Homo sapiens: one gene and its partner. The protein of the gene in region 2 interacts with the protein of the main gene of each other region in a biochemical or structural test. Each region holds a gene or a part of one and is shown on either strand. Other genes may lie near its edges. The genes, in order: CD93 and MMRN2.

What was found.
Region 1: the proteins of MMRN2 (region 2) and CD93 form a complex in vitro, tested with the Homo sapiens proteins (one study listed by BioGRID).

Annotation. Positions count from the first base shown.
Region 1 is NC_000020.11:23,083,278-23,091,118, forward strand, and holds the start of CD93 (complement component C1q receptor precursor), read right to left. Parts: upstream 3,048-7,841; 5' UTR 2,916-3,047; coding exon 982-2,915; intron 698-981; coding exon 673-697; 3' UTR 1-672. UniProt on the Homo sapiens protein: Cell surface receptor that plays a role in various physiological processes including inflammation, phagocytosis, and cell adhesion.
Region 2 is NC_000010.11:86,934,852-86,940,730, forward strand, and holds the end of MMRN2 (multimerin-2 precursor), read right to left. Parts: intron 2,275-5,879; coding exon 1,892-2,274; 3' UTR 689-1,891; downstream 1-688. UniProt on the Homo sapiens protein: Extracellular matrix protein that plays significant roles in the vascular system and is required for the maintenance and stability of blood vessel.

The DNA of each region.
Region 1 (7,841 bases), on a different chromosome or scaffold from region 2:
CTTTGCAAATAAACCCAAGGCTATTAGAAATGTAAGAACTAAAGAGGCACTTCCTGCCTCCTTGCCACCTAAGAGGTTAATTGCACTTCTGGCCATTCTGGAGGATGTCAACAGTATCACATTTAGCAAGACTTGTGCTGGCGAAATGGAGGAATGCAAATGTAAAGAAATGTTTCCAGTCCGAACATGTTCCCTTTGACCAAAAAACCAGATCTTCTTACCTAATTGAATAATTAATTGATTTAGTTTTCATCCTAGGAAGAGAAACAAATCATTTCAATCCTAATCAGCATGAGCAACTCACCTTTTCCTCTTAGATGGTGGAAGTGAGCAGAGAAGATATTCAGGGGAGCCCCTTAGCCCCGGCCTCCTCACACCCTGATCCGGAATTGGTCACATTGGAATTTGAAAAGGGAGGGGGAGTAACAATCATTATAGAGTCACGAAATCCCCACCGTGGCACGCCAACACACAGCTTCCACTTCAGGAACATCAAACACCCGTAGAAAATACCTGCATGTTCCAAGGGGCCTTTAAGGAGGAGACTTACAATTGTTTGCTAAGATTCCAGTCCAGTCTTTCAAAAAAATGTGGGTGCCCCTTTGGAATGGGGAGTTCAAAGCTCTGAGGATGGTGGCTGGTGACTCTAGTGTCTCTAGGGCCACCTCACTTTCAGCAGTCTGTCCCAGGTGTCGGACTATGGGAAACAAAACAGACAGCGTTGGAAGCCATGGCGCCTCTGTGCCTGCACGTCCCCACCTTGGGAGAGAGCCCCACGTGCGGCCGTGCTGCAGATGGGCAGTATGCTCTAAGGGGGCCCGAGTGCCTGGCGTGGGGGGAGGTTGAGGGGTCAGCTGCAAGGACCAGGGTGTGTCTGCCCACAGGAAACCTGGGCCTGCTCTTGCTGCCACCTCTTTGTACTGTAGTCAGTGCCCCCATGCCTGCCCATCCCCTCCCCCGGTCACTCAGGGCCCCCTTTACCTGTACTGGTTCTCCATGGCCCTGCTCTCAGCTCGCTCTGGAACCCAGGAGTAACTGTCTGCCGCATTCTGGGGCTTCTTCTCCTTCTTCTCCTCCCTCTTCGCTCTCCGCTTGCGATAGACCAGTAGCCCCAGAGCCAGGGCCAGCAGGAGTAGGATGGCCACCACGGTGCCTAGGATGTAGAATAAAAGCAGCTTTTGCCCGTCAGTGCCATCGTTGTTTTGTGTGGCCACGGAGGAGTCCCCACCTGCAGGCTCCTGGGGGCCAGAGGCAGCTGTGGCGTGATGGATGCTGGGCTCCCTCCAGACGCCTGGGGACCCACTGGGGGCCAGCATCTTGAGTGGGGCAGATGTGATGGGGGCGTCAGATGACAGCGAAGGTCTACTTGTGGTGGGTGTAGCCTTGGGGGTGCCCTCGGGGCCCCTTGTGGGACTGGCTGTTGCAGCACGGGGCACGGTGCTCCCTTCTTTCTCTCCTTTGTCCTCCTCATCGGGGGGCCCAGATGGTGGTCCCAGAGACACAGGCCCCATGGTGCAAGAGACCCCATTTGGGGCCAGCACCCAGCCTGGCAGGCAGCCACAGTGGAAGGACCCTTGTGTGTTGAAGCACAAGCTGTCGCAGAGGGGGCCCCCCGGGCCCACACACTCATCCACGTCCTGGCACTGAGTCCCGTCCTCCCCGGCCAGGACGTAGCCCTCCTCACAGGAGCAGTGAAATGAGCCATCTGTGTTGGTGCAGCCCTGGGCGCAAGGCGAGCGACCCAGAGCACACTCATCCACATCCTGACAGGCCCCCTCTCCAGGACCGCCCGGCTCATAGCCAACCCAGCATTCGCAGCGGAAGCCCCCAGGGGTGTTGACACACTCCTGGGCACAGGGGGAGTCCTGGCATTCATCCACGTCCACACAGTCCAGCTGACTCGAGTCCAGCTGGTACCCTTGGGGGCAGCGGCACGTGTAGTTTTTCCCATGGGGTCCCAGGACGCACGTGGCCCCCCCACGACATGGGCTGGAGCTGCAAGGGTTTCGAGAGGCACAGGTCACCAGGTCATCCAGCAGCCGGAATCCTGGTCGGCAGCCGCAGAGGAAGGAGCCATCCCCCCCTTCAAAGCAGTCCTGGTGGCAGCCCCCATTGTTGAAGTTGCAGCCATACTTGGGGCTGACACAGAGGGGGCCCGAGCTGCCCCAGTCGAACACATCGGGGGCCTTCTCCTTGCACAGGAAATAATGACTCTGAGTCTCGTCCTTGTCACCTTCCCCACAGGCTACATTGGCCGCAGAGGCAAAGGGCACAGCCTCCAAGGAGGAACTGGTGGTCTGGAAGGGGGTGGTGTAGGTCACCTGACCTGGGCCCCCCAGGGCCAGAGGCCGGCACATGCCTTTGAAGCTGAACTTGCACACGAAGCCCTCAATGTTACTTCCGGGGGAGCCTGGGCTCCCACAGGGGCCCTCAGACCACTTGGGGAGGCGGCTGGGAAGGAGCGGCTGGGACAGGTCCAGCAGCAGAGACACACAGCGCTTGGAGATGCACGAGTTCCGGAGCTCCTTGTGCCAGTTAGAGTAAGGCGTGTCCTCCCCCCCGCCCACCCAGCTGAAGCCCTTCAGCGGCAGACTAGGGTCCAGGCACTTGCCCTTCTCTCGCTGGAGCCCAATCCAGAACTTGCTCATCCTCGCCGTCAGGGCTGCCTCCCGCCTCAGGAGCTGGGCCAGTACTCGCTGGACGTGCTGGGCCTCCTCCTTGCTCTTCACAGTGGCCAGGTTGCCCCCGTTCTGGTTGCAGTGGTTCTGGGCCTCGGCAGCGCTCAGCTTGCCCGAGTGGGCCGTGTAGCAGGCGGTCCCCACGCAGACCACCGCCTCCGTGTCAGCTCCCGTCCCCGCCCCGGGCTGGGTCAGGAGCAGCAGCAGCAGCAGCAGCAGGCCCATGGAGGTGGCCATCCCGGTCTCTGTGTGGCCCTCTGCGGGAGGCGAGAAGCCCAGCGGCGACAGGAGCTTCTATCTCGGCTCCCAGCTGGGCCCCAAGGGGAGCTGAGGGGTGAGCTGCAGCCACTCCGGCGCAGAGAAGGACACAAAGGCTGAGGGCTTTCCACGTCCCCCTGACCCAAGGCGCATCCTGTACTGTTGTACTTCTTATTTCTCACCGGATGTTGGGGCTTCCTGCAATGAATAGTTCTCTGACTCCTGCTGCCTTCATCACGGTGCTGTTGTTCATAAAAGGAGTCAGGCAGCTCTGCCGGGTCCCTGGCTCAGCACTGTGGAAACAGCGACGGGGGGAAGACGTTACAGCCCCGAGATACTGCCGGCTTGATTTTGGCTCCATTCTCTTTCTCATGGCATGAGGAGCCTCGGAGGCATGCCATGGAGTGAGCAGGGGCTTTGGGGGCTAGGAACTCGAGGAAGCTCCCTTAGTAACCCATAATAAAATTCCACTTTGGTTTGCAAACCACCAAAAGAGAAAAAAAAAATTCTGAGACTTAAGACACAAGGCCATGGATGGTTATAATTTTCAGCCTTTTTTAGAAGCAAACTGGACTTTCCTTTTGCCTAGCTCATGTTCTCTGTTGACTTTGGGAGCCTTTTTTCTTTTATCCTCCCATCGTGAACCTTAAATAGACAGGCATTTTTTAAATAGGATACGGGTCGTGGGAATGTCTGGGTTTTCAACATAATGCCAAGCTCCTCGATAATGTTAATCCAAATTGGGTGAAATTTGGCAGTTCTGGGGGTTTCATAGTGGAAATATTGCATTGTGAGGTGTCAGGGTCACAAAAAGCATCAGAAAGAAAATGAAAATGTGTCCGGCCTCGTGGCGCAGGGCTTGCAGGCTCACTTCCCCCGGCTCAGGATTCCTAGCAAGGGCCGGAAATCTGGGCAGGGAGCGGGAATCGAAGCCCGGGCAGGCCCTCCCGCGACACCGCGACTCGGCAAAAGCCAGGGACTCACAGTGTGCTTTTCCTGCAGCCACAGACCTTTGCTCATTGGTTGGGATCCCCCAGGAGGGGACCCTGAGACAGGATTTGGGGAGACTAGTTTATGTGGGAGGGGAAGTGAAACAGACAAGGAGGAAGCCAACCCATGATGACTTGCTGAGAAGGTGACCCTGGGCTGCTGGAGCCAGTGCCAGGAAACTCTGGGGGCCTGAGGGGACCACACCTCAGCACCATCTCAGCTGAGGGAGAGGCTCCACTGCTCTCCAAGTCCCCTGTCATTGGTAGCAGGCTGTATCTCTCACTTTGAGAGACTGACTATAAATTCTAGCCCTGCCCAGTGACCAGGGGTCTCTCTCACATAAAACTTGTTTCTATGGACAGACACCCTTGTGGCTCTCGTCTGACCCATGTCCAGTTTATTCCTATCAAGACAGCCACTTCCTAAGAGATCCCTGATGGGAGGAGAGTTGGGTTGGGGTGTGGGTCAGGGGAGATGCAGGAGGCAGCACAAGAAGACACAGGAAGCAACACAAGCACCGTGTCACTTACAGATCCCAGGGAGAGGGCAGTGCACCCCACGGGGCCAGCAAAAAGTGGGGAGCTGTCTGGGTCACAAACACTCACCTGGAGGGGGGTGAAGGGAGAGAGAGAGACCTGGGTCCTAAGCCTTTATTGGGGTCCAGGACGTTTCCCAAGCAGGTTTCCCAAGGGGACTTCTCACTGGTGGGTTTAGAGCAAACAGACACGGGCTCCGTGGGGTCCCTGTGGCTGAGAGGTGGGCATGGCGGCATGTCTGGGAAGTCCCTGTGGGGTGTGGAGTCACTGAGACCATCAAATGGGCTGTATCTGCCTGTCCCACAGGGAAATGGTCACCAGGAGGTGGGTGTACAAGGCAGATATCTGGGTTGGCCGCATTGAGGAACTGGGAGGGGGTGGAGCCCTAGACACCGTGTCAAGAGCAATAAACCCTGCTTCTGGTAGGAGAGGGTCCAAATTAGATTCAAAATGGATGCAATGCACAATTATAAGAATTCTCTACACAGCGGCAACTCTTTGGTGCTCTGCACTGACCGTGAGGGCCCCAGGGGAAGAAGCGCCACGGTGGAGAACACAGTGAACGCCTGTGGACCCGGCACCAGCGACCACCACAGTGGCCTCCATGGAGATGTTGAGTTGTCCCGGGGGCTAGGAGCTCGCTGGCTCCCCAAGGGACAAGGAGGCATCTCTGACTCCAGCTGGATACCTCCTAAGAATGTGCCTTAAGTCCTTGCATTTTAGCAAAGATATTTGAGACATTTTGGGAACTCTCCATAGAAGCCACCAGACCCTCCCTGTGCCCCTTCATTCATCCATCTGTTTGTCCATCCACCCATCTAACAATTGTTGATTAAGACCCTGCTATGCACTGAGTGAGGCACTGGATTCCAGGAGGGGATCCCTGCCTCTGTGATCCTGGAGTCCTGTTAGAGTGGACAACTTTGAACAAGTCACGGCACTGATGGCTTTATTGCAGGCAGCACAGGGGAGCGGGGAGGTCGTGGTTGATACAGGGGTGGCATCCTGACTGGGGGATGGGCAATTAGGAGAGACTCCTCTGGAGAAGACAGGCAGTCAAGCCGGAATCTAAAGGAGAAGCAGCTCAGATGTGGAATGGTGTCGGGATGGGGGAACAGCATGTACAGAAGCCCTGGGGACAGAGAGTGAGTGAAGGGCAGGGAGACCAAAGCCCAGGCAGTGGGAGGGAGGATGCAGGGGAAGATGGAGCCCTGTGAACCCCAGTAATGAAGGCTTGAGGCTTCGTCTTGAAATCCACGGGGAAACACTGAGGGCTGGCATGAGGCCTACATGTGGAAGGGGACTGGTCAGTGGACCCAAGCAGTGGGTGGGGGGGCCCTCAGCAGGTGGCCGCAGGTTTCCAGGCTGTGGAGTCCAGGTCAGATGTTCTCGGGGCTGGGTGGAGGTGGGGGGAAGGGCACCGGGCACGCAGAAGGACTGCATGGCTCCTGCCGGGAGCTGGGGTCCTGGAAGGCTGTGTCCGCTGGAGGTACCTGGTTCTGAGAACACAGGGGATTGCCTCTTGGGGCTCAGGGTCTCCCAGACCCCCTGTCCTTGTGACCTGCCTCCTCGGGACGCTAAGTGTGCCACCAGAGCTGGGTAAGCAGCCAGCTGTGAGGGGTCCAGGGAAGGCTGGTGTCCCTGGCTCCCAGTCAATATAGCTGGCCATGCATTTGAGTTTGGCAAGGGTCAGTCTTGTTCTCTGCTTGGGAGAAGCTTCATTTCTAAGGGTTTATTTACAAGCAGGTAACTTCTTAACATTCTGTAAAATCAATTCTGCAGCCCTAGCATCCACTCATAGCAGGGAGCCGTTCTCGTGGTCTAGGCCCCTGTTTGTGCAGCTCGGAGGTAGATTCCTCAGAGGTAGATTGTGATCTGCAGCATTCGCTCAGCATTCTACTTAGTTGGTGCTTAAGGATATGGGCTAAATGAGTGACTTTCAGCATGTTAGCCACTCTGACCCCCAGATCTTTGTCAAGATATCTTCTTTAGCTGTAAGTTATTCATCTTCCATGTGGGAACTTTCAAACCAATTACTGTTCACTTAGCCAAGTGATGACATCTTAAAGAAGAAAATGAACTAGCAAGACATATACTCTGTTTTTTATCCATTAACCTTGGAAGTATTTGTAAAGCACCAACAGTGAGAAAGACTATGTAAAATGCAGAAACTGCCTTGCCCTGGGGGTCCTTGGATTTTACTTTATTATTTTCAGTAACTTGGTTAACTCAGCCCCACTTCTCATCTATAAATGCAGAGGTGGGAACAGGGCCTCTGGAAACTTTCTTGCTCTAACATTAATAAAAGTGAAATCATGCTTAACTCTCCCCTCTGGAATTAGGGAGAAAGCAAGTTGGGAAGAGAGTGGACACTGAGACCATTGCTGAGCCCTCGACATACTGCACATGTAAGCAAACCTCTGTCTAAACTGCACACACCCAATTTCATCCCAAATTGACCCGCTGACTGCCAAGACACAGGGTAGTTTCCTATTCCTTGTCCCCCACATCTGACTTCCACTGTGTCCCTTCACCCTTTGGCTGATCCCTGCTGGGCTCAGGTGGGTTAATTCACCTGGGACACTTACAGCTAGGTTCTCTAGCTCCAGCCCCGCCCTTCTGTGTCCGCTCCCACCTATAGGGGACGCTCCTTAGAGGCTGTTCAGGGGATTCGTAGAGGCTGAGGGCATGGTGCTTCGACCTCAGGGGAGGATGAAGAGCTTGCTTTTCCTGGGAGGGATTTGGTGGAGTTTTACAAAGAATTTAAGATAGTCTGAATGCAAACTTTGAGGGAATTCTGCACCTCACATACTAAATTCCCCATGGATGGTGTTTCATCCCATTTTATTTAGAGAGCAGATTATACCAGACCTCTCCAAGGACCGATACTTAAACAGCAGGAATCAGCAGAAGGAGATGGAAAAAGTTTTTCTCGGCAGATCTTTGGACGGAAGCCACGTTAGGTGTTCTAGAACCATGGCGAGCCTAACAGCATGGCATGTACCCTGAGCAAAAGGCTCCTCACCATTTGTGTGTATTCTGCAGTCTTTATGAGTACTCTGAGCTTTCTTTTTAAATTGCCTTAAAAATTTACTTTGCACGATGCTGGAATGGAATGTTCTGATCTCAAATATGGGGCGAGTTTAATCTCAGTTATTTGGGAGCAGACTAATTGGTTTGTGGATCATTCAGGCATCCGGCCTGTCTTTTTCCTTTTTTTTTTTTTTTGTAACTAAAAATTAAATTAAAAAGGGAAACAAAGCACACTGCGTATTTCCTGGCATAACATGGTATATGGTAGACTCACAATGAGCAACAGTGGCACAGAAATGGTGGAGGAAATGAAACAGAACTGGAGTCACTGTGACCTGTCATTCTA
Region 2 (5,879 bases):
GGTCAAACATGAGCAGTGTGGCCTGGCATACTGTTCCTTTTAACACCGATGTTTTAGCACATTGAGTGCACAAAACTTAGTGCTAAATAAATTCTGAGGAACAAGTGAAGTAATAACTCCTAGCAAACAATGAGAAGTGCTGATAACCTTGTTAACGCCAACAAGCAACTCACTACGAAGTCCAGTCTGATTTTTTTTTTTTTTTTTTTTTGAGACAGAGTCTCGCTCTGTCTCCCAGGCTGGGGTGCAGTGTCACCATCTCAGCTCACTGCAACCTCCGCCTCCCGGGTTCAACCGATTCTCCTGCCTCAGCAATCTGATTTTCTTATAGAGAAGACTATATTCAACAAATTTTGAGTACTTAATACCAAAAAAAACCTTGTTTCTGATAGCTAGATGACTGTTTTCTCAGGCCAGTTTGCTATAGGATCTGAACTTTTTTGAAAACCATATGCTGGTATATTACAGGAATAATTGCAGCTATGAGCTGTACTGTCTAGTCCAGTATTAGTATCTTTGCCTAGTGTGGAAACTTCCAAGTGTTTTATATAGAATAAACGGAAATCATTCTACATAACAGGGCCTGGAATAATCAGTCACATTTACCCACATAGTTTCACGTTGTCCCATGTTTTTTTTACCTACTCTACCAATTATTTTTGCCCTCCAGAAGTAAATGAGGCAGAGATTTGAAGGGCATCACTTTATTCCAAAGTTGATCATTAGTGAGGGGGATTTTTACAGTCTTCTTTCCCTCCTCCCTCAGCTGCCTCCTGGTTAGAGATGCTAACAAGAATTACGATGGTCCTAAGATACTGGAGGAAGTAAAAAAGTTGAAGGCCCTACATATTTTAGTTCACGTTTGGCATTTCTTGGTCTTTACCCTATGTAAGGCAAGGAGAAAAAGACATGAAATTTAAATTACAGATAAACACAAGTGTATTAGTCCATTTTCACACTGCTATCAAGAATTGCCCAAGACTGGATAATTTATAAAGGAAAGAGGTTTAATTGACTCACTGTTCCACATGGCTGGGGAGGCCTCAGGAAACTTACAATCATGGCAGACAGTGAAGAGGAACCAAGGCATCTTCACAAGGTGGCAGGAAGGAGAATGAACACAGGAGGAACTATCAAACTTATAAAATCATCAGATCTCGTGAGAACTATCACAAGAACAGCATGGGGGAACCGCCCCCAAGATCCAATTACCTCCACCTGATCTCTCCCTTGATGTGGGGATTATAGGGATTACAATTCAAGATGATATTTTAGGTGGGGGCACAGCTAAACCATATCCTACAAGGAATGACTGAAACTAAAGATACTAATTTCCTTTCCCTTGGTTGGCCAGGCTGTCGTCTTCATTACTGACTAATAGAGACCAAGCAGGTTGGTTTAATCCCATTGCCCTCTAGTGCTTTCCAATGTTGGCCAAAATGTTGCCTCCATTTTAAACATTCCTCCTGGGGAAGAATGTCTTTCTATCATACGATAAGGGAGAAGAGAAGAGGAAGCAAGAGAAAAGTTTAAAGTGTTGTACAGAAGTTTCCAACCACAGGAGGAGCAAAACACCAAAGAAGTTGTAGAATACAGGGTGTGGTGAAGAGTTGGAGCCCAGGCCGTGCTGTCTGAGAAGGCATGCCAAGCCAAGGTTCAGGCTTCCTAGGACCATGTCCTGCCCGGAGAAGCATTCCAGTCCTTCTCATCATGGAGAAATGGCCAAGCCCCATGTGGTTACAGGGAAGCCACGTACACCACACCATCTTTGCAGAAGGTTTCCAGGGAAGAGACAGACCAACTGAATGACCTCCAGCCCATCCTTGGCCAGAGCCCCAGGCCGAGGAGAGCTGGGCGAGTCCATGATGTCTGATCAGATTGGGGCTGGGGTTCAGGTCTTAAACATCAGGAAGCCCCCAAATGCAGTGCCCGACAGGCTTCTCTTTGTTATTGATCCCTGGGTTAACTCAAACCATACTCGCTCACCCTTCTGCAGCTCAGCCATGGCAAAGACCGTTGCTGTGCTTCCACTCCCCTGCCCAGTGGTACAGACTGGAGTCCGATGGTGACCTCCAAACACCAGCTGCCCGGTGCCTGGCCCTGGGCCAAATTCAACGCTCACTGCAAACAGGTAGACACCACGCTCAGGGGCTCGGAAGTAGCCATGTTCAGGGAAGTAGCTGCTGCCAATGTTGATGTATGTGGTGTTGAACTTCACTGTCTGCAGGGCAGCCGTCCCTTCTGAAAAGCTGGCATAGAAGGCCACAGGGGATCCTGAAACATAACAGGACAGTGCTTAGTGATTCATCCCTTACACCATTGGGTGGGAAATTAAACCCTGAGACCTACCGTCCTCACCTTATTAGCAATGGAAATAGGTCACTATTTCTAGATAACCTAGATATTCCCAACAGCAGTGTTATTGCAGGAGAAAAGCTAGATGGCCAATTCTGTTTTTCACTAATAGAGAGGAAGGAAAATGCAAGTCTGTTGTCTGAGCTGGTGTACATTTTAACAAAATACTTTCATTTTTTTTTTAGACAGGGACTCACTCTGTCTCCCAGGCTGGAGTGCAGCAGTGGTCATGACTCACTGCAGCCCTTTTTTTTTTTTAACGTAGAGATGGAGTCTTACTATGTTGCCCAGGCTGATCTGGAGCTCCTGGGCTCAAGTGATCCTCCAGCCTCAGCTTCCCAAAATGTTGGGCTTGCAGGTGAGCCACCATGCCCAGCCACAAAGCACTTTCTCGTTTGATCCCTTTTCCTTCCAACTTCCTTGAGAGACAGTATCCCTGATTGACAAAACAGGTTGAATCCTTCACCGGCTGCCCAAGGCTACATGGTTTGTAAATGGCAGGCTGGGACAGGAACACGGGTCTCTGACTCCCAGACGACCACCACTTGCTAGGAATCTTGAGATACTCAGGGGAGAGGGAGAAAATATCCATCCTCAAGGTAATAATAATGCTAACACTGGGAAGGTATCTGCAGAGCCATGAAGGCTGGATCCTCCTGGATGTTGAAGACAGAACCTTGGAGAAAGAAGGAAAGAGCAGGTGGAGCCAGGGAAGAGAAGCCCCTTCAAGCTGGTCTTCTTTTTTTTAGTTGATAAAGGGTCTCTTGTTGCCCAGACTGGAGTGCATTGGCGATCATGGCTCACTGCAGCCTCAACTTCCTGGGCTCAAGCAATCCTCCCACCTCAGCCACCTGAGTAGCTGGGTCTACAGGCATACGCCATCATGCCTGGCTAATTTTTTATTTTTTGTAGAGACAGAGTCTTGCTCTGTTGCCCAGGCTGGTCTCAAACTCCTGAGCTCAAGCGGTCCTCCCACCTCAACCCCGCAAAGTGCTGGGATTACAGGTGTGAGCCACTGTTACTGGCCAAGCTGGTCATCTTACATATGGGTAAATTGAGGCCCAGAAAGAAAAAGCTTATTGCTCCAGACCACACAACTAGTAAATTACCAAGCCTCCTGGGAACAGACCTTGAATCTCTAGACTTCTGGTTCTCTGCAGGGACCACTTTGGCCAGCCTTAGGACAGGAACACTGACAGAACACTGGTGCCAGGCCCATGCACGGGCACAGAAGCAGAGGAAGCTGCCATGTGTGGAGGGTGTACAAACAGCCAGGAAGAAGCCAGTCCTGCTGCCTGGACAGCATGGTTGGGCAGCTGGGGACAGGGTCATGAGATGGCACAGGAAAGGTAAGTCCTACTTGGGTCCTGGCTGTGACACTGGCCTTGGCACCAACGAGGTCATGTCCACCATGGGGTTCCTCAACTTGCTCCCTCTGTAGGGGTTTAAAACAAGGTCCCCATTTCTTAGGTGATAAAACCAAAGCCTTCAGAGGAGCAGTTTGCTGAGCAATTACTGACTTGGGTCCCGGAACTCAAGCCTCAGCTCTTTGACTCCCAATCCAGCAAGCCTTTGTGAATAAAAAAATGTTGCTTTTCTCTAGTTCTGGAAGATTTTCTGAGAATTAGACAGCTGAGAATAGCTTTCTCATTTGTGTTCAGATTGTGTCAAATCAGCCGGGCGCAGTGGCTCACGCCTGTAATCCCAGCACTTTGGGAGGCCAAGGCGGGCGGATCACCTGAAGTCGGGAATTCGAGACCAGCGTGACCAACATGGAGAAATCCCATCTCTACTAAAAATACAAAATTAGCCAGGCGTGGTGGGGCATACCTGTAATCCCAGCTACTTGGGAGGCTGAGGCATGAGAATCGCTTGCACCCGGGAGGCGGAGGTTGCCGTGAGCCGAGATCACGCCGTTGCACTCCAGCCTGGGCAACGAGAGTGAAACTCCGTCAAAAAAAAAAAAAAAAAAAAATGCCGGGCGCAATGGCTCACGCCTGTAATCCCAGCACTTTGGAAGGCCGAGGTGGGCGGATCACGAGGTCAGGAGATAGAGACCAGCCTGGCCAACATGGTGAAATCCCGTCTCTACTAAAACTACAAAAATTAGCTGGGCATGGTGGCAGGCGCCTGTAATCCTAGCTACTCGGGAGGCTGAGGCAGGAGAATCGTTTGAACCCGGAAGGCGGAGGTTGCAGTGAGCCGAGATCGTGCCATTGCACTCCACCCTGAGCGAAAGGGCGAGACTCCGTCTCAAAAAAAAAAAAAAAAAAAAAAAAAAAAAAAAGATTGTGCCCAAGTCAGAGGCCGGCGGCTGCCTCTGCAATTCCCCTAACACCCTGCAGGTGGTTCTCTTGCCTAGCCGAAGGAAGGCCGGCCCGCAGCGCCCTCTACCGGTGCTAGGCCCTCGTTCCGGCCGTTCCGTCCGGGCGCCTGCGCAGGGAGTTCCGCCGCAGAGAGAGACCCCCACCCCAACCCAGCCTTGCGCCTGACAGGCCCTAAGATGCGGGAAGGGCTGTGCAAACTCAGAGTGTGCTTCCCTGCAGGGCACACATTCAAGCCCTACAGCCTTCCTACAAACAAATAAAGGGAAATTTGGGGTGTGTGTGTGTGTGTGTGTGTGTGTGTGTGTTTGTGTGTGTGTGTGTGTGTGTGTGTGTTTGAGACAGAGTCCTACTCTGCCGCCCAGGCTGGAGTGCAATGGAGCTATCTTGGCTCACAGCAACCTCTGCCTCCCAGGTTCAAGCGATTCTCCTGCCTCAGCCTTCCAGGTAGTTGGGATTACAGGTGCCTGCCACCACACCGGGCTAATTTTTTTTTTTTTTTTGACAGTTTCGCTCTTCTTGCCCAGGCTGGAGTGCAGTGGCGCAATCTCGGCTCACTGCAGCCTCTGCCTCCCGGGTTCAAGTGATTCTCCTGTCTCAGCCTCCCGAGTAGCTGGGATTAGGCGCCCGCCACCACACCCGGCTAATTTTGTATTTTTAGTAGAGATGGGGTTTCACCATGTTGGCCAGGCTGGTCTTGAACTCCTGACCTCAAGTGATCCACCCGCCTCGGCCTCCCAAACTGCTGGGATTATAGGCATGAGCCACTGCGCCCGGCCTGGAAATTTGTTTTTAAGAACAACATTTTTTTGAAATAAATATCGTCGTGGTAAACACATTTCCAAACCGTGGGGCAAATTCTGAAAGTCATCAGCATATTGAAGCCTTGCACCACGCACGAGAGGAAACAAGAGAGAAGTGTCAGTGTCGGTGGACACAACCTGAACCCTGAAAATGCTGGGGAAATGGGAAAACGTTGACTGCGTTCCTACATGAGGTAAGCCTCGTGCTAGGTATTTGGTAAACGCAGCAGTCTTCATAACAAAACTTTGACATGGGTAGGGATTCTGCCATTTTACTGAGGAAGAAACAGACAAGTGATGCCAGAGCCTGGGTGCTTCCCACTGCTCCACATTGCCTCTTGGGCCATAGGGAGGGTCAGCTGGGGCAGGGGCTGCCTGGGACGGGACCTTCAACAAG